Linked DNA regions of Homo sapiens: all the other regions are linked to region 1. The links come from fine-mapping of genetic effects on gene expression. A gene starts in region 1. Each other region holds a variant in brackets. All regions are shown on one strand. Distances are from middle to middle.

Region 1 (8,188 bases):
AGGACTTTGAAATCTATTTATCCACAGTTATTTAAGGATTTCCTATTGTGTGTTAGGCTCTGATGATTTAAAGGTTTAAAGATGAGTAAGATACTCTTGGAAGCTCAACAGTTTGTGTGGGTAGGCAGATACCAATTATTACAATACAACACAATAAGTATGTGTAAGTTGCTGGCAGAACTGAACTGCTAATTCCTACTGCTGTGGGTGTGACATTTGAACCAGGCCTTGAAGGAAAAACCTATATTTTCTTTCAAGAGAGAAGTCACTGCAGGCAGAGAAAATCAAATAACTGTGAGACGTATAAACGGGCAAAGCACGTTTAGATTGTGAACCTGGAATTTGGGGAAAATAAGGAAAAAACATAGGTAACAAAAAGTAGGCTCAGGTCAGATTTTGAAGCTTTACACAAACAACTTTTAGAAAATTACCTCCTGACTGGAAAAAAAAATAGAAAAACTCTTAGCTGGTACAATAAAGTTGATTTTTTTTTTTTTTTTTTTTGGGATGCGATCTTGGCTCACTGCAACCTCTGCCTCCTGGGTTCAAGTGATTCTCCCTGCCTCAGCCTCCTGAGCAGCTGGGATTCAGGTGCCCGCCACCACGCCCAGCTAATTGAAGAAGAAGAGGTTTCACCATGTTGGCCACGCTGGTCTTGAACTCCTGACCTCAGGTGATCCACCCGCCTCAGCCTCCCAAAGTGCTGGGATTATAGGCGTGAGCCACTGCGCCCGGCCTGAATTACTGTTTCTAAGTTGTTTAACCCATGCTTCCCTGGAAAATGCTTTCTCCCTCTATCTTCTATACTCCCCACTGTCTAAGAAGTTCTGAGAAAGACAGACTGTAACATAAGGCATGAGACAGACTAACTGGGATCTAAATCCTAGCTCAGTCACTGTGTATCCTTAGGCAATTTAATCTGTCATGCTTCATATTTAAAATGGAAATAATACTGTAATTCACTGAATCTAAGACCACTGATTATTAGACACATGATTATTTTATGTCACAGTAAGAAAAAAATGTTACCAATTAAACTTTGACATGCAATCAAAGTTTTAAAGACTCACCCTGATTACAAAGATGTTAAAAATAGTGGAGAGGAGTGAAATATGGTAATTGTATCTACCTCATAGAATGGTTATAAAGACAAAATGAGTTAAAACATGTAAAACCTTTAGTAGAACAGTCCCTGACATATAAGTGCTCAACGTTAGCACACAGTATTCGCCAAGCTTTACTTTCTGTAGTGGGTAATTCTTTCCTTTACTTTCGGTAGTTTGTAAAGCAAGAGATACTGAATATGTATATCCAAACTGCATTCACTCTACCTTGCCTCAGCACACTCATACTCACACATTCAAAATCCAAATACACAGCCTAATCTCCTTCATCTAATGTAAGATCCTTTCTTATTCTAAAGCAAGATTTTCCAAGCCATGGCCTGGGCTGCTGGAGGCCCAGGATGGCTTTGAATGCAGCCCAAATTCGTAAACCTTCTTTAAATGATACGAGATTTTTTGCAATTTTTTTTAAGCTCATCAGCTATCATGAGTGTTAATATTATGTGTGGCCCAAAGACAGTTCTTCTTCTTCCAATGGGGCCCACGGAAGCCAAAAGATTGGCCACCTCTGTCCTAAAGAGTTATAATGTGAGTCAAATGTATGATTATCTTTGTGTGAAGGGCATTGCACCTGACTCAGTTTGATACTGCCAAAGCATGAGGATATTCCTGGTAAGATGTTTATTTTTCCCAGTCTTCAGCTCAAATTCTTGACATTCAGTCTGGGCAAGTACACTCACCAGGTGTATGCTTCACACTCAAGGCACTGAAGTACCTATGGAAACTGATGACTTACTTCTGGAGAAGGCTTTATAAACAATCCCAGATTGCTACACTGACTCATAAGTCCCCATCTGACATTCTATTCTCCCTGCTGATGACAGATCTTGATAAGATGAAATCTATAATCTAAAAATAATAGTAGTCCAAGGTTATCAAAAGATAAAAAGCACAAAAAAATAAAAGGAAGGGGACTAGATGTTTATTTATCTTAGGACAATAGTACTGTAGTTATAAAATTTCTCTCTACTACCATTACATAAATTGAATTAAATTACTGTTCTTTTATACCAAATTGGCATAAAATGATTAATAGTAGTTAAAAGAAATATTTCCTCAAAACCACCACAAATCAATGCATCAACATTGCTAGTTTTACATGATTGTAGATAAACCAAGGCCTTGCAAGGTCGTATGGCTGTGATCTGGAGAGAGCTGGAGAGAGGCCAAAAGGTTATAAAGAATCTAATTTTTAAAATCAATTTAGTATACTAAAAGCTGTTCACCCAGTATGGCTCTAGAGTACAATATTTTTAATTCTCAAGAGTTGGAAGAAATAAAGCAGCAAAACTGACCAAAATTGAAAGATCTCCTGGGATGAGAATACAGCGCAGACTCCAACAACCCGTTTATGGATATTTTGCCAAAGTAGGTGTAAATTTAAACGGGCACAGCGCTAATTTGCACCTGTCCATTACACATTACATCTTGACTGATTAATCTCACAGTCACCAAGAGCTGGCCAGATAATGGCTTTGATAGTATTAAGAGCCAAAAATAAAAGATCCTATCATTATTAATTTCCCTCTGCCTGTCAGCCTCTCTCCCAGTGACATTTTTACAAAGGAAAAAAAACAATCAATCAGCAAGGAGAAGTAAATATCCCTTGATTACTGAAAGATAATTCATTCTCAAATCAGGTCATATTTCCTTTTCCCCTTTACACCAATTTCAAAACCCATGGCCAAGGCCTGCTTTCAAAGTGCTTACAACTTGCTTTCAACTGCCCACCTTTACGCCTGTCAACCCACAACTTCCTTCCAAAAATCTGCTCTGGTGCCTTAACTTTGTAAAAAGTGTGCACTCCGAAGCCTTTAAACGTTTCTGCATCACAAAAGCTGGGTGGCACCTCTTCCATTTGGCCACAGGCATCTTTTGCCAGCTGTCGCCCTTTTGGCAAAGGAAAATGGGGGCGGCCCTTGCCGCTGTCCAACAGCCCAGACTGGGTGTTACAGGGCAGAGGCAAAATTAAACAAAGGCTAAGGAGCCGGACCCTTAAGAGGCAGGACCTGCGACCCCACTGCTGGCAGCGGTGCCCCTTGCAGGGCGGCCTTGGGCTTCATGCGCCCCGGGCTGCCCCCAAGGACCGCCTGTCCGACTTCCTGCACGCGAGCCCCTGATCTGGAGCGTCTCCCCGAACCCAGACCGCTCAGGAGCCGGACCTCAGCAGCACTTTTGGCCAGGTCCAGGGTTGGCGCCCCCGACCCCAGCGCGGGCGGCTCGGGGCGCCCAGAACCACCAGCCATTGTCCTTTGGTGGCCCCCACTGGGGTCCACTCAGTTGGCCTCGGGCGCCGGCCGCTGCTGGGGACACCTGGGGGAACCGCCTCCCCCGCGGGCCGGGCCGGCGGAAGGCCGCGTGGGCGTGTGTTGGGCGATGGGGGCGGCCTCCAGCCGCCGCGTCGCCGCCTCCCCCACGGCCTGCCCGGGCAGAGGGGAGGGCCCGCTCACCTCGGTAGCGGCGGGAGGCGAGGTGGCACGCTGCGAGCAGCAGCACGGCCACCAGCGCCAGCACCTTGGCGCTCCTCACGCTGAAGTAGTGGTTGATCTCCCGCTTGCCCAGGTTGTAGGCCAGAGCCGCCATCTTGGTTCCTCCATGACAACAGTGCGCGGCGGAGCGGGAAAGGGGCGCCGCACAGGGGCAGCACTGGGGCTGCCGCCGCTGCAGCCAGGCGAGGAGCGGCCGCCAGCTCCCCAGGCCGCCACCTGCGCCTCCCGCCGGGGAACCTGACCCCGCGGCCGCGGCGCCCCCGACCTCCGCCTGCCCCTCCTCGGCCGCGGCCGACTCGGCGGCCTCCCCCCAGCCCCGCCGCCGCTGCTCCGCCGTGCCGGTTCCCCAGGCGCCCTGGACGCCTGTCTCCTCCCCTTCCTCCTCCTCTTTAGCCTCCTGCCTTAATAGCGGCTGCGCCTGCGAGGGGGGTCCGGATGCCCAGTGCTCCGGGGTCACCGGGTCACGCGCCCCGGCGGGCGGCGGCGGCTGCGGCAGAGCCATGGGGGTGTGGGGAGAGAGTACTAGGGGTACCCGCCTGGCCCGGACGCGAGCCTTAGGGCTGTCTCCTAGTTTACTGGCCGCTACCTGAGCCCAGGTTGGGGCAATAGAACTACAGTTCCGGGAGAAAAGTACACATCGTCCCATTCCTTCCTTCCCCAACACTCCCCTTTCTCAGCCTTCTACTGCCAGAACCCGCCCAGCGGGATGCGAAGGACACCCTAAGGTCGTTTATTGTCTGGCTATCCGTGGCCTGGCTGGTCAGTCTGGCTGCCCCTGGGTGCTGGCCAGATTGGATTGATGGATCCAGTTGATGGTGCTGGCCGATGGATTGCTGGCATCCAACCCAGGAGTGAAACCAGTCTTAACACTTAACTCACCGCTCTGGCCAGTTTCTCTTAAACCGTTTTTTTAATGTCCTCAGTTTGCCCAGTTCTGGTGGGCGAAAGTACACCAAAGTTCCGAATGGAAGGTACAGAAGGAGCCTAACTTAGTGTAGGTGTTGATGAGAAAAGAGTCTGACTCTCACTTGTATTTACGCAAGTTTGGCTAGGTCGATGTGCCAAAAAAATTCGTTTTTTTTGAGAGGGAGTCTCACCCTGTCGCCCAAGCTCTAGTGCAGTGGCGTGATCTTCGCTCACTGCAGCCTCCCCCTCCTGGGTTCAAATGGTTGTCCTGCCTGAGCCTGCCGAGTAGCAGAGATTGCAGGCGCCCGCCACCACACCCGTTTAATTTTTGTATTTTAATAGAGACGGGGGTTTCACCATTTTGGTCAGGCTGGTCTCGAACTCCTGACCTCAAATGATCTGCCCATCTCGGCCTCCCAAAGTGCTGGGATTACAGGCATGAGCCACCAAGCCTAGCCAAAAAAAATTTTTCTTAATGTGCTTATGACAATCATCCCCGCTACTAACGTTGGTTAATGTTTTGTGATTCTCAATAAAGCCAGCACTCCATTTCCTTAATAAAGCATTGTTATCCCTACTCTCCTCTCGCTCCCACCCCACCTTTTTTAAATGGTTTTTCTTGTTGCCTTCCAGATGGGAATGGTTATTTACATTGCTTGCCATTCTACTTGCCTTGCCTTGTTTAGAGTGAGTCATTGTTTAGTTGGGGTGTTGTCAAGTATTCTTTACAACTTTCCCATTTAGCCATTCCTGAACTTGTGCTTATAGGCCCCTCTTAAAATTATAGAATATTAGATATGAAGGGACTGTAGAGATCTTGTCTACTCATTCCCATTCTCTTCATCCAAGGACTCTTTATTATGTTTTCATCCATGGACTTTATATCTTGAAAGATTTTGTCACTTAAATGAAATCACATACATCACTGTCATGGATGTAATGCTAATAAGCAATAAAGTTAAATAAGTGTACAAACACTTAGGCACTGTTCCCTGCAAATAGTCTTTTAATTTTGGCTGTCATTCTGATCAGAGGTTGATCACATGTTGTAAGAATTGGGTATTGTAAAAACCAGATAACTCTGCCAACAATATATGGTCTGCCAATCACATCCTAGACATTTCTATGATGTCATTACCAGCAAATTAGAATTTCTGATCAGCATGCAATAACCAGTGTTAACCCAAAGGGTTGAGTTAATGCCTGCAAAAAGTAAAGAAACTTGACATTCTATTAATTGCAATTTCCAGAAGGCTTTCTTAAATACTGTAAATAGCTTGTGAACCTCCTTTTTCTTCTCTCAAGTTTAAGGCCAATCTCTCTACCTCTGCTCTGAATCTTTTCTTATCCTCCTTTCTTGAGGGTGTTGATTCCTCCATCAGTTATCCCCATGCAAATCATTCTTTTTCTGTGTCTTCCAATTCTCCCTATCACCTTGCTGTTTGCCTTCCTCCAAAAAAAATTTTTTTTTAATGAAAAACACCCATGGACTCTGTTCCTGCATGTTTACCTCATCAACTCTTTCCTCCTCTGGCAAACATCTAGAAAGAGCAGTGTTGACTCTCTGCCTTCACTGGCTCAATTAGCATTCTCTCTTCAGCCATTTCATTGTTCTTCACCAAGGCTGTGTGGTATGACTACTTGTTAAATCCAAGGGACACTTTATATTCCTTATCTTCCTGGACCATTTTGTGGCACCTGACATTGTTGACCATTCTTCCTTATTTGGTATCCATCTAAAACAGAGCGGAGACTTTGTTTTCAGCCACTTCTTGCTGTTTTTAAGTGACCTTAGGATCACTTAGTCATTATTTAGTGGTCCCACCACTGCCATGGGATCACCTTCCTTATACACACGCGCGCGCACACACACACACACACACCTGATATGTCAGTCCATATTTATCTATCCTCATGCTGTAAGAACCATCTGCCTACTAGGATATCCTTCAGGTACCTAATATATATCATTTCCTAAACAAACTCATCACCTTCCTTCTCCTTTATCTACTTTCAACCTTTATGCCTAAGTTTTCATCATTAACCCAGCCGTCCAAGCAAGTGTTTGAGTCATCCTTGCTTTCTTCTAAATAACTCTCAACTGTGTTGCCCCCTCTCTATCCACTTGCTGTTACCTTGGTTAAGGGATGATTTCTTGCCTGCATTTCTTATCCTTTTACTCGTCTTTCTCAGGTCACTCGAAAATCCAACCCTACTGCCATTCTGCCATACCTCTTACCAGACAGAACTTTCTTAAATTAAAATCTCGTAATGTCATTTCCTGCTAAAAACTAGTTAGTGGCTCCACGTTTATTTCCTGACCCCTGAGCTATCCAGAATGTTTACTAATGCTCAGCATGTTACCTCACACCTTAATAATATTTTAAAAAGAGAGAGACAGAAACCATCTGACAGAAACTCTCTCAACCTATGCATTATTTTTATTTTTATTTTTATTTTTTGAGATGGAGTCTCACTCTGTCGCCCAAGCTAGAGTGCAGTGGTGTGATCTTGGCTCACTGCAACCTCTGCCTCCCAGGTTCAAATGATTCTCCTGCCTGTCTCCCGAGTAGCTGGGACTACAGGTGTGCACCACCACGCCTGGCTAATTTTTGTATGTTTAGTAGAGACGGGGTTTTACCGTGCTGGCCAGGCTGGCCTCCAACTCCTGACCTTAGGTGATCCACACGCCTCGGCCTCCCAAAGTGCTGGGATTACAGGCATGAGCCACAAAGCCGGCCCTATGTATTACTCTAAAACAAACTGCTACACTTTATCTTTTCCCTTCTGATTCAAAGAAAAATTCCTCCTCCCCTTTCCCAAAACTGTCACTCTCACCTGTGTGTATGATTATACCAATATCATTTCATTGAGAATCTGGTCTCCTAAGTTCCCCTTCCTTATTTCTACCTTTAATTTATCTCTCTTCATTGTTTGCCAAATTCATCCTATCTTCCTTAATGCACCACACAATCTCTCTTTTTTCACCACCAAACTTCTGAAGGAACAGTTTGTGGTTACTTTCCCCATTAAAAAAATTGTTTTTACTATTTTTCAGTTCTTTACATGAAAACTAACTTATGTCCCTACTACTTTACTTACTTAAACCACTCTTTCAAATGAGGGCCACATCCTAAATTACCAAATTCAACATATTTATCTTAGCTTTATCCTTCTTGGCTGTGCAGCTTTCTTGAAATATTTGCTTTATTCAAATCTCTCCTCTTACCTTTCTCATGCATCTCCGAAGATTCCTCTTCCTTTCTCAAAGCCCCTTTTTAAAAGCGCTTTTCAGGTTTCTCATTTGCCTACTTCTCTTCTTAGCAAACCTAAATTGTAAGTTGGCCTCAACTATCACTCCTGATCCACACGTGCAACCTGGCTTCTCATGGTCCTCTCATTTTCATATACCTAAGGGACAGCTTCAATGACTCGCATAGTACCTCAGACTCAATATGTTGGAAAACAAGTTTTATTTTCCTTCTAAACCTTGTTTATCCTTTTAATTTTCCCTTTAGTTCATTGGCACACTATCCTTCAAGTCATTTCTGCTAATCTTTGACTCATCTTCTTTCTACTCTGCCTTCTACTCATCTAAAGTATAGGGTTTTGGCCAGGTGTGCAAGCCTGTAATCCCAGCTCTTTGGGAGGCCAAGATGGGTGAATCAC
Region 2 (8,188 bases), 33 kb after region 1:
AGGTAGGGGGCCAGGCTTGCAAATATGGAGGATACCAGGGAGCTGTACCAGGGAGCTGAGACTAGCCTGGGCAACATGACAAAACCCAGTCTCTACAAAAAAAGTACAGAAATTAGCCAGGCGTGGTGGTGCGTGTCTGTGGTCCCCATTACTCAGGAGGCTGAGGTGGGAGGATCACCTGAGCCTGGCAGGTCGAGGCTACAGTAAGCCATGATCATGCCACTGCACTCCAGCCTGGGCAACAGACTGAGACCCTGTCTCAAGAAAAAAATAAAATAAAATAAAAATGAACTCGGGTGGATAATGGATAGAGCAGAGAAGCTGAAATAGAGCTACCATAGCATGGTGGGAACAGCCTGCTGTTATGTTGATTCTGCTGTTATGTTGACGTCATTGTATGTGACCGTCAACCATTCATATTGTTCTTGCCTCACTTGCTCATATTCACTGCATGGGACAGGAGCATTCAATGGGCTAAGGTTAGGTCGTGTGGCCACCTCCTGACTGTACTTAGAGATGGGAACTTCGCAAGGCAGACACCCCCAATGTGATCTCCAACTCTGATCATACACATAGAGGGGATATTACTTCCTAAAAGGAGGTTAGAGTGCAATGAAGAAGTAGAATGGCTAATGACAGGTGTCTACTGTATATTAAGTCACAGAGACTAGACAAGAAAGTACAGAGACTAGAGAAGACAGTTCAGTTTGGAGTTATTGAGAGACTTTATGAAAGACGCTGGATAAGCCATCCCATTACTGGGTATATACCCAAAGGATTATAAATCATGCTGCTATAAAGACACATGCACATGTATGTTTATAGTGGCACTATTCACAATAGCAAAGACTTGGAACCAACTTAAATGTCCAACAATGATAGACTGGATTAAGAAAATGTGGCACATATACACCATGGAATACTATGCAGCCATAATAAATGATGAGTTCATGTCCTTTGTAGGGACATGGATGAAACTGGAAACCATCATTCTCAGCAAACTATCACAAGGTCAAAAAACCAAACACCGCATGTTCTCACTCATAGGTGGGAATTGAACAGTGAGAACACATGGACACAGGAAGGGGAACATCACACACTGGGGTCTGTTGTGGGGTGGGGAGAGCGGGGAGGGATAGCATTAGGAGATATACCTAATGCTAAATGACGAGTTAATGGGTGCAGCACACCAACATGGCACATGTATACATATGTAACAAACCTGCACGTTGTGCACATGTACCCTAAAACTTAAAGTATAATAATAATAAAATTAAAAAAAAGAAAGACGCTAGATAAACAGAAGTTGAGATGAGATCCAGAAGGGAGATTAAAAATGCTACACCAAAGAAAGAAGGTAACAAAGATGCCAACAAAAAAATACAGGCTGGGCATGGTGGCTCATGCCTGTAATCCCAGCACTTTGGGAGGCTGAGGTGGGAGGATCACATAAATTCAGGAGTCTGAGGCTGCAGTGAGCCATGATCTATACTGCACTCCAGCTTGGGTGACAGAGTGAGATCTTGTCCAAAAGAAAGAGAGAAAGACAGAAAGAAAGAAAGAAAGAAAAGGAAAGAAAGAAAGAAAGAGAAAAGGAAAGAAAGAAAGAAAGAAAGAGACAGAGAGAGAAAGAAAGAAAGAAAAAGGAAGAAAGAAAAAGAAAGAAAGAAAGAAAAAGAAAGAAAAGAAAGAAAGAAAGAAAGAAAGAAAGAAAAGAAAGAAAGAAAAAGAAAAAAGGAAGAAAGAAAGAAAATATATCTAAGCCATCTAAATTCAGTGTGTGGGATGAACTCCACTCCTGGCCTAATGCGATCTTCCTGCCTCAGCCTCCTCCAAGGTTTTATTGATGAATTTAATAGGGTGGCTTTATGGTGAAGCTGCATAGTTTCTAGCAACAGAAGCATACCGTCCTTCGATTAATAAGTTTCAAGGGTTATTAACAACCACTAGGACCACAAAAGACTTCTGTGGCTGAGATGTTTGAGTTAAATTTTAATTCTCTTTTGCCCACCATATAGTTAGAACTGAGGCTTATGAATCTTATTTCATTTTTCTAGAAAATAAGCTGGATTTTTGTGATAGCAATAAGACAACCAATGAAGACCCCCACCTGTCTCTGTTTCAACATAATTTCAAATAAACACATAAAACCTACTTCAAATGTAACATTTTCATGAATACAAACTTCGGGATTCCTCCCCCCAAGCATATGAAGTTACGCAGATCTGTATTTGAATTTCATCTTCTTGCTTACTAGTAGAGTGATGGTGGATGAGTTACCTGGATTATTTGCTTTAGTCTCATCAGTATAATGAGAGCAGAAGATATCCAATCACAGAACTTATTATAACATCAATCACCACTTTGAGGGGTGATCTAGGTGCATATTAGGGACTTAAGAAATATTAATATCAGTTAATTGAATTCAAAATAATCTGTAAAATGATAGAGAAGTGCTTCTTTATGTTGGTTGTTATGAAATTATATTACTGTTGTTTGTGGTAGTCCTGTAAAGCAGAGCTCTCACTTTTTCCCAGAAACAGCAGGAAAAGCAAACATTTCTCTAGATAACATGAGTAAACATGAATAAAATGTATTTACAGTATCCTACCTTGATGATGGATTTGTAAATCTGTCTGCTTTCAGATGTTCAAGACCGAGGGAAATTGCACAGGAAAATAATCTTGTATTTCTTTATCAAAACTAGCAAAAGTCAACATGTATCATAAATTGGAAAAAGTCTGTAAGTCTGGAGTATTTTTTAAAGTGTTTTATTTTATGTATTAGCTTGGTGTGCTTGGTAGCTCAGGGAGGGTGGTGATTACTGACTTTCCCATCTTTAATTTAGTTTTTCCCACTAAAAGTGACAACTGACACAAGGTGGGCTGGGAAAACAACAAAAGTGCATTTTCCTCCCCAATTAGAGGTAAAGAATATGTTCTTTTTGTTATAGATTCCTGTGCATAAGGCTGAGTAGGATGCCAAAAATTAATGGGCTGCTATAGTTAACACCATTGCTCAGAAGCAGGAATGCAAAGACAGACTCTGTCAGTGAGAGGTGGCAGCAGCTGGCTCTCTAAATACCCCGCAGAACCATGCATGGGGGCTTTACTTTGGTGAATTTATCAAAAGATATGGCCCTGAGCTTGTCTAGGCTTGAAGCCCTAAAGTTTTTGTCGACTCATGAGAATGGATGCATTTCTCAGTGACAGATTCATGGAAACCAAACTCACAAGGCTGATGTCTAAAATTGAGTGCCAATTCATTAATTTTTAATGGGAAATAGAAGTGTTCCACTAACCAGAGAACTATAGTCTATGAACAGTCCATTCTGTCTGTGTAGATAAGTGAACATGAAATGTCAATTATGACCTGAAGCTTACTTGATGAACATAAAATCACAACAAAATAAACAGGTTCAGTAAACATTCTTTAACAGTTAATGCCATCTCAGGATGCAGTCAATTTCATTGGCCTGAGAGCTTCATCTCTCGCTTTTATATCTCCTTTCATCAGTACTGTGTGCTAAGTTTAACCGTTAAAGGTCCA[T/C]CTTCCGTCATCTCCCAGCCTTAGGGAAAACTGTAATCCTTTATGTACTGAGTACAGGAGAAGTCTACTATTGACTTTCGCTCTTGCCAGGTGTCCTTTATAAAATGAGGTATAAATTAAGATAACAAGCACAATTTAAAAAATGTGTATTTAGGCAGCACATAGAAGTCACACGTATTCTCAAAAAGCTGAGAGCTTAACAAAATTGAGTCATACAGAATTTATGAAAAAAATGTATTGACTGTTATTTACTGTTAAAGAAGGCAGAAAGGGTCATCTGGGTGAGGAGCAGAAGAGATGCTAGATCTGAAGGTCTGAAAAATTTCTGGTCTCTGAAGTATTCGGTAATGAGAGTACTTCATCATCCCTCATTACCAACTGGATGAAATATGCGTAAACACTGTCCATGCACTTATCCTTGGATTCCAGACCCTCGCATGCTTTAGTAACTGCAAAGACGATACCCTGAATTGTGCAAACTACATTGGAACATACGTGAAATTAAGCTCTGTTGTGGCTTGTAGCTGGTTGACCTCTGGACTGTTGGGAAAGTCATATTTAATATATAGTTTCAAATTTCTTGCCCCACACTAATTTTGTTTTTCCTTACATTTCCAGTAAAGTGTGGTATGTGACAAAGGTCAATGAAGAAAGTAAAGGAAAGGGTTTGGGGATTGCTCAATGTCCACTTCCACATCCCCCATCCCCAGATGCATCCACAGACCCTTGTGTAGCAGCATCCTCTGCAGAGTCTATAGTCTAGGCATTGTTGGCCATGATTGAACCCTGGGTCCACAGGTACCACTTTGAGGGGTGATCTAGAATGGATCTAAACCCAAACTACCAAGATTCATTTATATTACAAATAAAAACAATGTCCATTCCCTCCATTTCAGAAAATCACATCTTTAAAGAGTTTTGTCTTTTTGTCCTGACTCTGCTCTTTGCCAATCCAAAGTGTCTTTGTAGGTGGCATTTCCTGAAGATGTTCAAGGGAAAATATTCGATTGAAGAGAAGTCTCTTTTTGAGGGGCAGCAAGGATGTCCTAGATTGGAGAATTCCTGATTCTTATTAGAGAGAGGTGAATGAGTCTGTATTTTTGAGAAGAAAGAAAAGAAGGAGGGAATCTGGAAGGCAAAAGTTTCCCAAGAGCAGTGGGAAGAACATATGAAGTTACACTGATCTGTATTTGAATTCTATCTTCTTGCTTACTAGTAGAGTGACGGTGGATGAGTTACCTGGAGTCTTTGCTTTAGTCTCATCAGTATAATGAGAGCAGATATCCAATCACAGAACTTATTATAACATCAGATGAGTTCACAAACAACATACCCATCAAGGTGCCTAGCCCACTGTGGTGTTCAAGTGCTAGTTTCCTTCTTACCACATAATGTTGAATTGTACCAGGTGAAAAAGAGGACTTCTGGGATAATAACCTTTTCTTCCTGGTTGATTGAAAGTTTCTCTTACCTTAATGTGATTGCCCTGATAAAACCCAGAAAAGAGCTCTTTCACGCCTTGTCTGCAGACATTCCTGCCGGCAATCTCTTTCCCTGATTCACTTAGTGTACTTACCCTTGCTGTGATCACCCATACAAGAGGGAGATTGGTTCAATTCTGCAATGAGGAGAATATTTCACTCTCCCACAGCGGCAGTAATGGCTCTTCTGCCCTTGGGGAGAGAGATAATAGGGGCTACTGAGTTATTTGAAAGTTTCATCTGTATAGTTTTGTCCTTTTCCACTTTTGTCCATTTGATCTTAAGCAATTTTTTAAAATACTTCTTGATGGTATGCCAAGCCGGGATCTGGAGGTGGTTCACTTATTGTTATATTCTCATTTGTTTTCCAGATCTTTTAAGATGGATCCATCTAACTTAGTTTTACATTGTTTTATAATTAGCAGTTTCTTGTACCCTCTGATTCTTAGACTTCTTTACCTTCTGTATGTATGTATCTCTGGATACCATAAATACAATATTACAGTGAACTAACATTTTCACCAAGCAGAATCAAATCTAATCTCACATAACTTGTCTTTCAAATGTAACAGCTAAGGTTGTGATTACCTGGGGGCCCAGGGCATGAAATGAGAATACTAAAACAAGAGTATAAAATAAGGCAGATTGTTTTCCAACAGGAATTAGATATATAATTAAAATTATGTTCAACTTTTTAGGCATAGTCTAGATTTGACTATATCTGGGATACAGGACACAATAAATACTTTGTGTCTCTGACTAGCAGTGAAAACATCTAATTTTTAAAAATGTACCTTTAACTGTAATGTCCTATATTGTAAAGGCAATCAGCTAAACAGTAGATATGGGAATGGAATATGGTTAATATATACCTACACAGAAATTACATTTGGAAAGTGCTGATCACTTGGTTTTCAAAGAAGAGATGATGATTTGTTATAGTCACTACAGAGACATCACAGAAGCCATTGTATGTTTGTAGTTGAATTTAAGATACAGAAAACTCTGGTAAAGCTTTTCAAGTTGTATTCAAATCATTCAGTGAATCAGAGGTGAGAAATGTTCTAAATCAATAACCAGCATTCTAATGTGACTTTTATGTAATTCCTCAAGAGGAGGTCCAGGAGACTCAATGCAATGTGACTTCTAGTCAAGCCCAGACAACCTGCCACCCTGTTCTTCCAAAAGTAAAAATGAACACATGGGAAGGAGCAAAGCTACCCACTTGGGATTCTATTGCTTTTCACATGTTATTTTCCATTCTGCTTGCCTCCCCCACCAATTTCTCACCCCTGCTATTTCTTTCACTGCCAGTATGGCAGAGAAAAACAAATGTGGTATTGGTACATATTGGTGAATATTGTACATATTGGTACTTGAGTAAGATTTTCTATTTCTGTTCACAGTGCAAGGGTGCCTGCAGAGCAGGAAAATTTTTCTACAGTCTTAAGGGTCCCTTGGGCCAGATGCTGACTGATATCCTGCTGAATTTAGAAATTGTTATTTAAGATGACCTTTAAATACATTACTTTACAGATAATTAGGACATAAATTAGATTTCAAAGAACCAACATAGCAAGATGATTAAGGAATAAGCTCCAGAACAGAATCCTCATTCTTTATACACCTTATTCAGTATGCAACTGTGGGTAAATTACTTAACCTTTTTGTGCCTCAGTTTTCTCATTTGTAACATGGGGATAATCATAATGTCTACCTGATAGGCTTGCTGTGGATCAATATGTTGATATGTAAAGCATTTAGAACATGCCTGGCTCATGATTAATGCAATATAAGTGTTTGTTTTCTTAAGTCTGCAATCCCTTATGTGCAATTCTGAAATTGAAAAGCTGAAAACAATTGGTTCATCTTGTAGCAAACTCATTCAGTGGTAAGATCTGACCGGAACTGATCTGTGACAACTTATAAACTTCACTTATCCCACTTTGCATGAATATTCATATGTAGGATGGTAGAAGTATTAATGCGTTTCATTAAGAGCTACTGCCATACCCCTTGGGGTTGTTACATGAGATAATTCACAACTTACTTAGATCCAAGACATTCTGAATTCCAAAGGACATCAGGTCCCATGGGGTTTTCTAAGAAATTGTTGACCCATGTTGCTGTTATTTCATCTGATACGATAGTAGCACCATTCTTGTTTTTTATTTGTTAATGGTTTGAAAATGTGGAGGCTTTCATACATGGTGGAGTTAAATGACACAGTGATCTCCCAAAGTTTGGGAATGAAAATTCTGATTAATCAGATATTCTGACTAGTACAGAGTTGATTTATATATGATTAGCTATGGATTACACATTTTTAAAGAGTTTGTATTGAGTATCATCAATCCTAAAGCTTCCTTCAATAAGTGCAGCCAATATTAATTGAACACTTCCTTTGTACCAAGTGCTATGTTAAACAACTTACATGAAATTTCATTTAATTTTCTAAACAGGTCTGTAAAGTAAGCTTTTAAAATCATCATCTCACTTTACATGTAAATAAATTGAGAAGTCATGTAGGTAATCACTGAAACTCAAGCCCAAGTTTGGGCACTCGAAACACATGCTCTTATACATAAGTTGATTATATTTAAATATAAATTGATTATCCTTTGAAGATTCAGAAAGAATGACTCATGACATTATTGTGTTCCAAAGACATCATTAAGAACACTACTACTTATTATGATTGCATTTATCATGTCTTTTCTATATGCTAAACATTGTGCTATGAATAGAATTATGCTTCGATTGTGAGCAATTCCAGTTTTAAAAAGTTGATTCAAAACACCTAAACAAATATTGTTTCATTATTTCTATTCAGTTTCACTAGACTTGCTACTCTGTGGTTAGTGATTCAGAATGAAAAGTGAATAAAGCAAAGGTCTTGCTTTTTAGGAGATTATAATCCCAGGTAAAGTGGTTGCTCTGGGGGTTAATGTGTATAACTTTTTACTCTTAATTTAGAGTTAATAGGGTACCTAATTTAGAGTAAATAGGGACATTTAGCCTACACAAAATGTGGAAACTTTACTATCATATAGGCTTAATATTCCCCCACCTATCCTTTATGTGATATAATGATATGATCATATATCATGATGTATTGTGCATTATATATAGCACAATTATCATGTATGATTACATCC
Region 3 (8,188 bases), 78 kb after region 1:
CAATACTACACTACAAAAATATGTTCACTTTGATAGTAAAAATGCATTGTGTGCTTTGCTTAAAAATGTCTTTAAATTTACGGTGAATCTCAATTTTAAGGATACCTTTCTAGATTCCAGTAAGATTGTTAATTTTGGCCAGAATTAATCCTATGTCTGGAGCTCAGAATAATAGGTTTGCTTTGGAGCAATCAGATGAAAAGATTTGGTTCTATTAGGTGATTTGAGGATCCCTGGAAAACAATTACAGTATTGTCCTCAAGACATTTTACAGTGCCAGAAATTGCAATAATTTTTAGGTTAAACTCTATCACTTTTCAAAATTAAAAAAACTAATACAAGCACATTTTACCTAAAAGGCATAGCTCAATTAATTGTCCCCCATTACTGAGTTTGTTTGCTCTTCTTTAAAAAGATTCTGAAGATTGGTGTATTTTTATGTTACAAAGTACAGGTCATAAGGTATATGTCAAGCCTAGTTAAAGCGTAGGACAGAGGACTCATACCAGAAAAGTGGAAGAATAAAAGACAAACCATTATTTACATTTGGACTGGTGCTGGTTGGTTCTCTCAGGTCTTAGGGTAGGAGAAGCAGCATGTTCTGAGTAAGACACCTAAGATGAGATATGAAAGTCATAGTTCAAGCCGGGTGCAGTGGCTCACACCTGTAATCCCAGCACTTTGGGAGGCCGAGAAGGGCGGATTACCTGAGGTCAGGAGTTCGAGACCAGCCTGACCAACGTGGCACAACCTGTCTCTACTAAAAATATCAGATTAGCTGGGCATGGTGGTGCATGCCTGTAATCCCAGCTACTAGGGAGGATGAGGTAGTAGAGTAGGTTGAACCTGGGAGTTCAAGCTGTAGTGATCCAAGATCGCACCACTGCACTCCAGCCTGTGCAACAAGAGTATAACTTCATCAAAAAAAAAAAAAAAAAAAAAAAAAAAAAGAGAAAGTCATAGTTCAGAAAAGTCCAGGGTTTAGCGATGTGGATAATACTTCTTTTGTGCAGTGGCTTATAAAGTCTAATTGGGACATGGACCCCTAGGAATATCAGATGAAATTTGTGGACTTTTCTTCCAAGAAAAATGCACATACCCACAAAGTGTATTTAACATGTGATTTCAGGAGTTCATTGATGCTCCTCCTCCCCTGAAGACCATCCTTGTTTAGTGCAATACTCTCTAAAATGGAAGGGGGTGGTGCATGCATCCCAGGGGCGTGCAGAATGATCCACTGGACTATGGACCCTTCTATGTGTATTTATTTTCTGTCTTTACAGATTTTTTTTCTGTAGAGGTTTTATATTGCATATACTAGCACCATAATATATACATAACATTTATATATAAGTAAGTAAATTTGTTGTAAGAACTCAAATTTTTACTGATAAGGAGGCATAACTCAAAATTGATACACTACCACTTTAGAGAGTGGTGCTAATTAAGTGTAAATTCTACACTCTCTTCTTCCTAAATTAGAGGGCCAGTGATCAGAAAATAAATCAAGAGGCTACCACCAGTGGCCAGGAAATTTTGGACCTAGTGATGACAAGTCTATTGTGCATACTTTACTCAGCACTTTCACACATGCCTGTTTTGGTACCCCCAGCAGTTCTGTGAGATGATATGTGTGGTAATGGCAATCTCTAAGAGCAGGCATGTTAACTAAAGCAGGCATGTTAACTAAATTCTCAAAAAACTTAAGAGACTTTCCCAAGGGCCCTGGGCTAGTCAATGGCAGAGCTGATACTCATAGCCTTGGCTGCTGACCACAAATTATGTGCTCATTTCACTGAAGAGCAGGGATAAGTCGCTCATTATGGGTTGTCTATGGCCCCATTGTTGGACTTACTAGTGCTCCCTAAGGATATGGAGTTGTCGAATCCCTGGCTGATCCAGGCACAAGGATAGAAAACATATTTTAGCTACTTGATCAGAGGGTTAGGAAGCTGAGCTAACAATTCAGCACTAGCTCTCTCCTGTTGGTACTGTAATACCAACATATTTCAAAATAGATAGAGGACTCTGGAAGGGTTTAGATACATCTATGTACAAAAAAGATTTACAATGGGTTATTAAATGGGAGTTCTGAGGCTGGCTTCACAAGAAGTGCCAACTGCTCTTTCTCCCAAATTTCCCCTGGTGCCACTGTCAAAGGCAAAGTACTCATCTAGATGGATTTTTGTTCTGACCCAGAATGACATTTCCAACTTTTCTTATATATAATCCAATTTCTGAACTTCCTTTACAGTGATATTAAGTGGAATAGCATAAAAAAGTCTTTTGGCATTAAAGATAATAAATGTATTCAGCATTGCTCAGGTATCTTTGCTCTTTGCCAATGCATTAGCTGTATTGATTTTAGAATTTTAAATGACCCTTTTTACTAGACTTGATTAATGTCCCCTCCCTAGATCTTGGCTACCTGCTTCTTCTCTCTTTCATGTGCAATTTTCTTCCCTTTCACACTCCTACAAGTTAGAGGTGGCTGACCTTCACTCCACCAAGGGTCAAGAAATGTTGTGAGGAGTATGCTTTGGGCCTGGTGATCAGCCTCTAAAGAGTGGGCTCGTCATGGAAGGGCCAAGTCTTCAGTCTATTGCTCTATGTCCACATTTGAGTCTAGGCCCTGGGAACACTCACAGTGGACCTCCTGGCTTGGTAAGTACCAGGCTGTTTTAATATGTGACTTCCAGAGAAGAAGGATTGAGCCAGAGAGCTTGAAGGTGAAATGAGATCTCTATCAAGAGAGGCCAGTTCAATCCAAATATCAGTTACTGTGTGAGACAAAGGTTAATTTCCCGAGACTCCCTCTAATTAATTAATAGTGTCTTCTGTTATCCTCAGAGGATATGTAATTTAAAATTCTGTTCACACATTATTTTATTCTGCCTCTGGAACCGCACTATAAGCTCCCTGAGCTCCCTGAAGATGCTGTGGCCTGGTAGAGCTTTGTACACCCTCCCAAGCTTCTCTCAGGATGGCTGGTCCATGGTGGATGATGACCCTTAGGCCAGGCTTGTCCTTCTCTTCAGGAAACAGGTGGGTGGGAGGTTGACCACTCCTTCCCTGGAGATGGCTACTCCTGAACCAGATTCTTTTCACTTTTGACTGCTTCTTTCATAATATTTTAAGAGTAAATTTGTTGTAAATAATAATGTAATATAGCTACATTGTTGCAAATTTGAAAATTTTAGGCCTAAAAATCATCCTTAAACTTCTATACAAATGTGCCTACTCTCAGCATTTTTTTACATGTATATTTAAAATATCTAATTATAATGACAGTGTTCTTGAATATTAGATTTTCAAGATTGAAAATTCTATTCTAAGAAGTTTTTCTTTTGTTAAATCATCCTTATAAATGTTATTGGGATACCAAAATTTATTTCACTATTCATCCTATCGTTATCTATTAGATATACTGTAATTTGTTTCCTCATTGTTTACTGGATATACCATAATTTGTTTCCTCATTGTAATCCATTAGGTGTACCATTATTTATTTGACTATTTTCAGTTGTCTCACACTGATGATGATTAAGTGATTATTAAGTGAGCATTGGCTTAGGAAATCTGCTAATTCAGATTCAGTTTGACAAAGGTCATTATTATTATTTAGCATGGCTTTTGCCTCTAGCAGGTACTCAATAAATGCGTTTTATTTTTTTTTGCTATAAGTCTGAGGGTATAGTTCATATTTGATCCAGAGATTTCTGTTTTATCATGTAAGTTTGCATGGTCATTTTAATTACTAATTTATAGAGAGTACCAGCATTCGGATCCCAGGAGTTATCTTTATATATGGTTTGGTCAGATATATATATTCCTTCTTGTCAGACACAGA[A/G]TATTAGAGCTACAAAGGACTATGGCAGTAACCTCATCAGGTGGTCCTTCAATTGGTGCACATCTGAATTTCACAGGATGCGTAAGAATAGCAATTTCTTACTAAATCTGAATTTGGCAGATGAGGACCAGGAATCTGCATTTTGATTAGGAGACCTTGCTAACTTTTTAAGGTTAATATTACATTTTTACCATGTTCAGTCTTTTGCCTTTAAAACTAATTGAATCTTGAGATGACTTATAACACAAGGCAAATATTACAATCACAATTATGTTCTGCAACAGGAAATAAGCTCTAAATGAATCTTAACATTTTACTTGACACATTACTATGTTTAAGTGTATTAAAGATGTTATTGAAAGGTGCAGGGGAGGAAAATGAACTTGATTTGGCAGGTAGGTGTTCGTGGTACTATTATCCACAACTGTCTATCCTGATTGACAGCACACACATTACCTCTTAACAGGCATTGTATTCAGTTGCCTCAGATTTAAGTGTATGGCATTTTTACTGAATATTTGAAACTGTTTTAGTTAATAGTATTAATTGCTCATAGACCAACTTTCAGCCACTGTTATAAAGTGCTTAATATATAATAAACCAAGTTTCTATAGACCTTTGGTTATAGTAAAATTAGGTCAAAAATGCCATGTTGCTTAAATATTACATATTTTGAGTAGGGCAAATGCTTAATAGTGCTGAAAAGGAATTTTTTCATATTATAGCTATGGAAACTGAAATGCAGAGGCTCAGAGTTTCAAGGTCACTCAGCCACAAGGAACAGAGCCAGAACTGGAGTTCAGCTCTCCTGGGTCCTCGTTCTCTGCTCTTTCTACCACACCAAACTGCCCTTTTTGCATAATTTCTATCTAATCAGAGGCACTTGGTCTAATGGCTGGTAGAGATGCATATTTATATTGCAAAGAGCATTGAAGCAAGGAATTTTACTCAATATGTTCTTTTGGAAAACCAAACATGCTTTATTTCATTTTTTTCACAATTTATTTAAACATCTCACATATACAAAATAGGTACAATTTAATTTTTCTGCTTGCCCAAGAAACAAAGCTTCTGTGGAACCATGGAAGAAGATGAAAATGAGACTGGCAAAGAACAAATGCTGAATCTGAAGAAGATTTGGGCAAATAATCTGCATACTTTTAATTGGGAATAAGATGGAAAATATGAATGCTAAATCAAATTTTTTAAAAAATACACCACACGATACAACTCAATACAGGAGTATTTCTTCTCAAATTCTTCTAGCACCATCAACATTCTTCAAGTATCTGAAATACTATTAATTAGCACCTTTGTATTATGAACAAAACAAAACAAGGACCTCAGTTCATCTCTGTCTAGGTCAGCACCTAACAATGTGGATCACACTCATGGGAAAGTGTTTTGAGGTAGTTTAAACCTTTGGAAGTTTGGGTTTTAAACTTCCCTCTGTGGAAGATATTCAAAAGCCACAAGTGGTGCAAATGTTTATGGTTTTTATTTTTCAATTTTTATTTTGGTTTTCTTACAAAGGTTGACATTTTCCATAACAGGTGTAAGAGTGTTGAAAAAAAAATTCAAATTTTTGGGGGAGCGGGGGAAGGAGTTAATGAAACTGTATTGCACAATGCTCTGATCAATCCTTCTTTTTCTCTTTTGCCCACAATTTAAGCAAGTAGATGTGCAGAAGAAATGGAAGGATTCAGCTTTCAGTTAAAAAAGAAGAAGAAGAAATGGCAAAGAGAAAGTTTTTTCAAATTTCTTTCTTTTTTAATTTAGATTGAGTTCATTTATTTGAAACAGACTGGGCCAATGTCCACAAAGAATTCCTGGTCAGCACCACCGATGTCCAAAGGTGCAATATCAAGGAAGGGCAGGCGTGATGGCTTATTTGTTTTGTATTCAATGATTGTCTTTCCCCATTCATTTGTCTTTTTCTGTTTAAAGAGAAGAAAATAGATACACAAAGCATCACTATTTCTGAATCTGATAATATCTGAACCTTTGATTTAATAAGAACCACTGTTTGGCATGTGTCATTCTGAAGATGTCTGTCCCAGATAAATAAGTTCATCCTTGAAATAACAGTATCAAGGGTGTCTTTAGTGGGAGGGGCTCCCTATCAGTCTAACAAAAAACAAACAAACAAACAAACCAAAAAAACCAACAACATTTCAACACACATTCCAAGTGACCTATCTCTACAAAGTCATTTTTAGGATTGTTGTGTGTATGTCCCTCTATGTGTGTCTTTGGGAGCGGGACCTGGGTGGGTATGTAGTCTTGCTGTTAGTGAATTTTAATTTTTCTTATATTTATAGCATATTGTAGAAAAAGCATTAAAAGTTAAATGTAGGCCATACTAATAAGTAAAATAAAATACACATAACTATAAATTATAGTTTAGGCCACTGAAGTCTCAAGAAATTTTAAGTTCTGGGCACACATTACCATTTAAAAAACATGCTAAAGAAAAAACAATGCATGGACATAGTATACATTTCAGCATTTCAGAAGGCACTATCTGATAAGAATACTCTGAATTTATCATCTGAATTTAAGTACGAAATTAATACGTATAAATAAATAAATATAAAATACATACAAAAACTGAATTTACTTATGAAATAAGTTAGTTCTCTCATTCTTCTGTTCTTTTAACCCCCCTTTAGACCCCCCCTTGGGGGCAGTCTAAGTTAGAACCCCCTCCATCCCACTTCCCAAAGCTATTCCCATATTTCACTATTACTTACAGAGCAGCCATCTACAAGAACAGTGTAAGTGAACCTGCTGTTGCCCTCAGCAACAAGTTCAACATCATTAGAGCCCTGTAGAATGACAGCCTTTTTCAGGTTGCCAGTCTCCTCATCCATGTATGCAATGCTGTTCTTGCAGTGGTAGGTGATGTTCTGAGAGGCATAGTTGGCCAGCAGGCGCATGAAGGCAAGTTGGGTAGCCATTTCCTTGGAAGTCACTCCTTCTACATTATATTCAAACTACAGAAAATAGGATGAAATTCCAGTTAAGTGGAGAAGGACTCAGATACTAAGAGTCAAACATGAAAAAAAAAAAAAAGAAAAAAAAAGATCTCAGGAAGAGTAGACTCAGATCCAAGCTTAGGAAAAGGGTACTTTTAAAGAAAACTTAATTCACTTGTCTTTGAAGTATCAGTTACCTAGATGAACATAAGACCTACTAGACTGAGGCAAGGTCATCTAAAAAAGTTATCTGTTTCAATTAATCCTTTTTGCATATGCTTCTTCTTTAGAATAAGAGAATGAGGAGGTAGAAATTCTGACATTTTTCTTTTTCTGTCATTTTGTAATTTATGGAATTCCAGTAGGCATTCAGTAAAGTTGGTGAAAAGGTTTGATTAAAAATTCAGAAAAGCTGCTCACATTCTGAAAATGCATATGTATGAGTGTGGCATATAGCTGGCCAGTGCTCCTTCACACTAAATGACATTAGTCAGTTTTTTCAATGATTACCAATTAAGTCAAATTTGAATAATAACTTTGAATTACATGGATGTGTCCAATCAATCCATCTTCTAATGTGCAATTTAGGACAAAATTGGAACCCAGGAAAGGAACAGGTCTTTTTTTAATAAGCCCATTTTTGTCAGAGATTAAAATGCAGATAATTAACAAACAGTCCTACCAAAATATTATTTAGCAGAAGGAGAGGTGTTTGTGGGATTCCTCACCTGGCTGCCAGCATTGATAGTTTCTCCTAGCCAGACGTGTTTCTTGTCCTTGGAGCTCCTATACCAGTTCTTGGCTGGGATGTTTTCAGGTTGGGCCCGGATACAGGTTTCGCCAGTAGAGAAATCACAGTATACTTTGATAGCATCCATAGTGCATCCTTGGTTAGGGTCAATCCAGTAGTAACCTTTTAAGAAAATAACATTCAGATCATGAAACTTCTCATTGAGCAGAACACAGATTCTAATAATAACTAATGAAAGATACTGACTCTCATAAGTAACATTTTTGATTGTCTACCCCATATTTAAGAGGAAGAGGGTGGCTATTTTTAAGATTAGACAGTTCCTTCCCTCCCCTCCTCCATGAAAAATCAAATCAGGGTACTTATTACTATGAAAAGTGCAAAAATACATTTTAAGGGAAATGAGGTTGGGTGCTGGTTGGGAGAAGATGACGCTCCATTAATTGGGTGTGATTTCACATAATGTAATCTTTACCCAAATGCATTTTCACTCTAAATGTCAATGGAAACTAATTTTGAAAAGCTCAACTTGTGAGAAGGGTCAGTCTGGTCTGGACATCTTGACCTACCACTGCTCCACTCTGGGTGGCTGAGTCTCAAGTCACGGCA

Direction of the effects. Alleles are on the strand shown, and positions count from the first base shown. SD is a standard deviation of normalised expression in the study named.
With allele T in place of C in region 2, the expression in breast of the gene that starts at base 3,983 in region 1 is higher (small effect, 0.20 SD a copy in GTEx).
In carriers of allele G in region 3, the expression in transverse colon of the gene that starts at base 3,983 in region 1 tends to be lower than with A alone (small effect, 0.29 SD a copy in GTEx).

The links.
Region 2: its variant is fine-mapped to the expression of CASD1 in breast (GTEx, PIP 0.99).
Region 3: its variant is fine-mapped to the expression of CASD1 in transverse colon (GTEx, PIP 0.92).

What each region holds. Positions count from the first base shown.
Region 1 is chr7:94,505,604-94,513,791 of GRCh38, reverse strand. It overlaps CASD1 (CAS1 domain sialic acid O acetyltransferase 1), which reads right to left and starts at 3,983. Exons shown (of 18, transcript NM_022900.5): 1 at 3,575-3,983. The coding sequence starts at 3,707. RefSeq lists silencers at 3,320-3,679, 3,780-3,929, 3,970-4,189 and enhancers at 2,723-3,709, 3,710-4,698.
Region 2 is chr7:94,472,453-94,480,640 of GRCh38, reverse strand. No RefSeq gene overlaps it. Among named protein-coding and RNA genes, the nearest start is that of CASD1, 33 kb to the left of the region's middle. The variant T/C (reference allele first, on the strand shown) is at 3,550.
Region 3 is chr7:94,427,846-94,436,033 of GRCh38, reverse strand. COL1A2 (collagen type I alpha 2 chain) reads right to left here. Exons shown (of 52, transcript NM_000089.4): 49 at 8,149-8,188; 50 at 7,557-7,741; 51 at 6,604-6,846; 52 at 4,807-5,787. The coding sequence ends at 5,641. Among named protein-coding and RNA genes, the nearest start is that of COL1A2, 37 kb to the right of the region's middle. The variant A/G (reference allele first, on the strand shown) is at 3,851.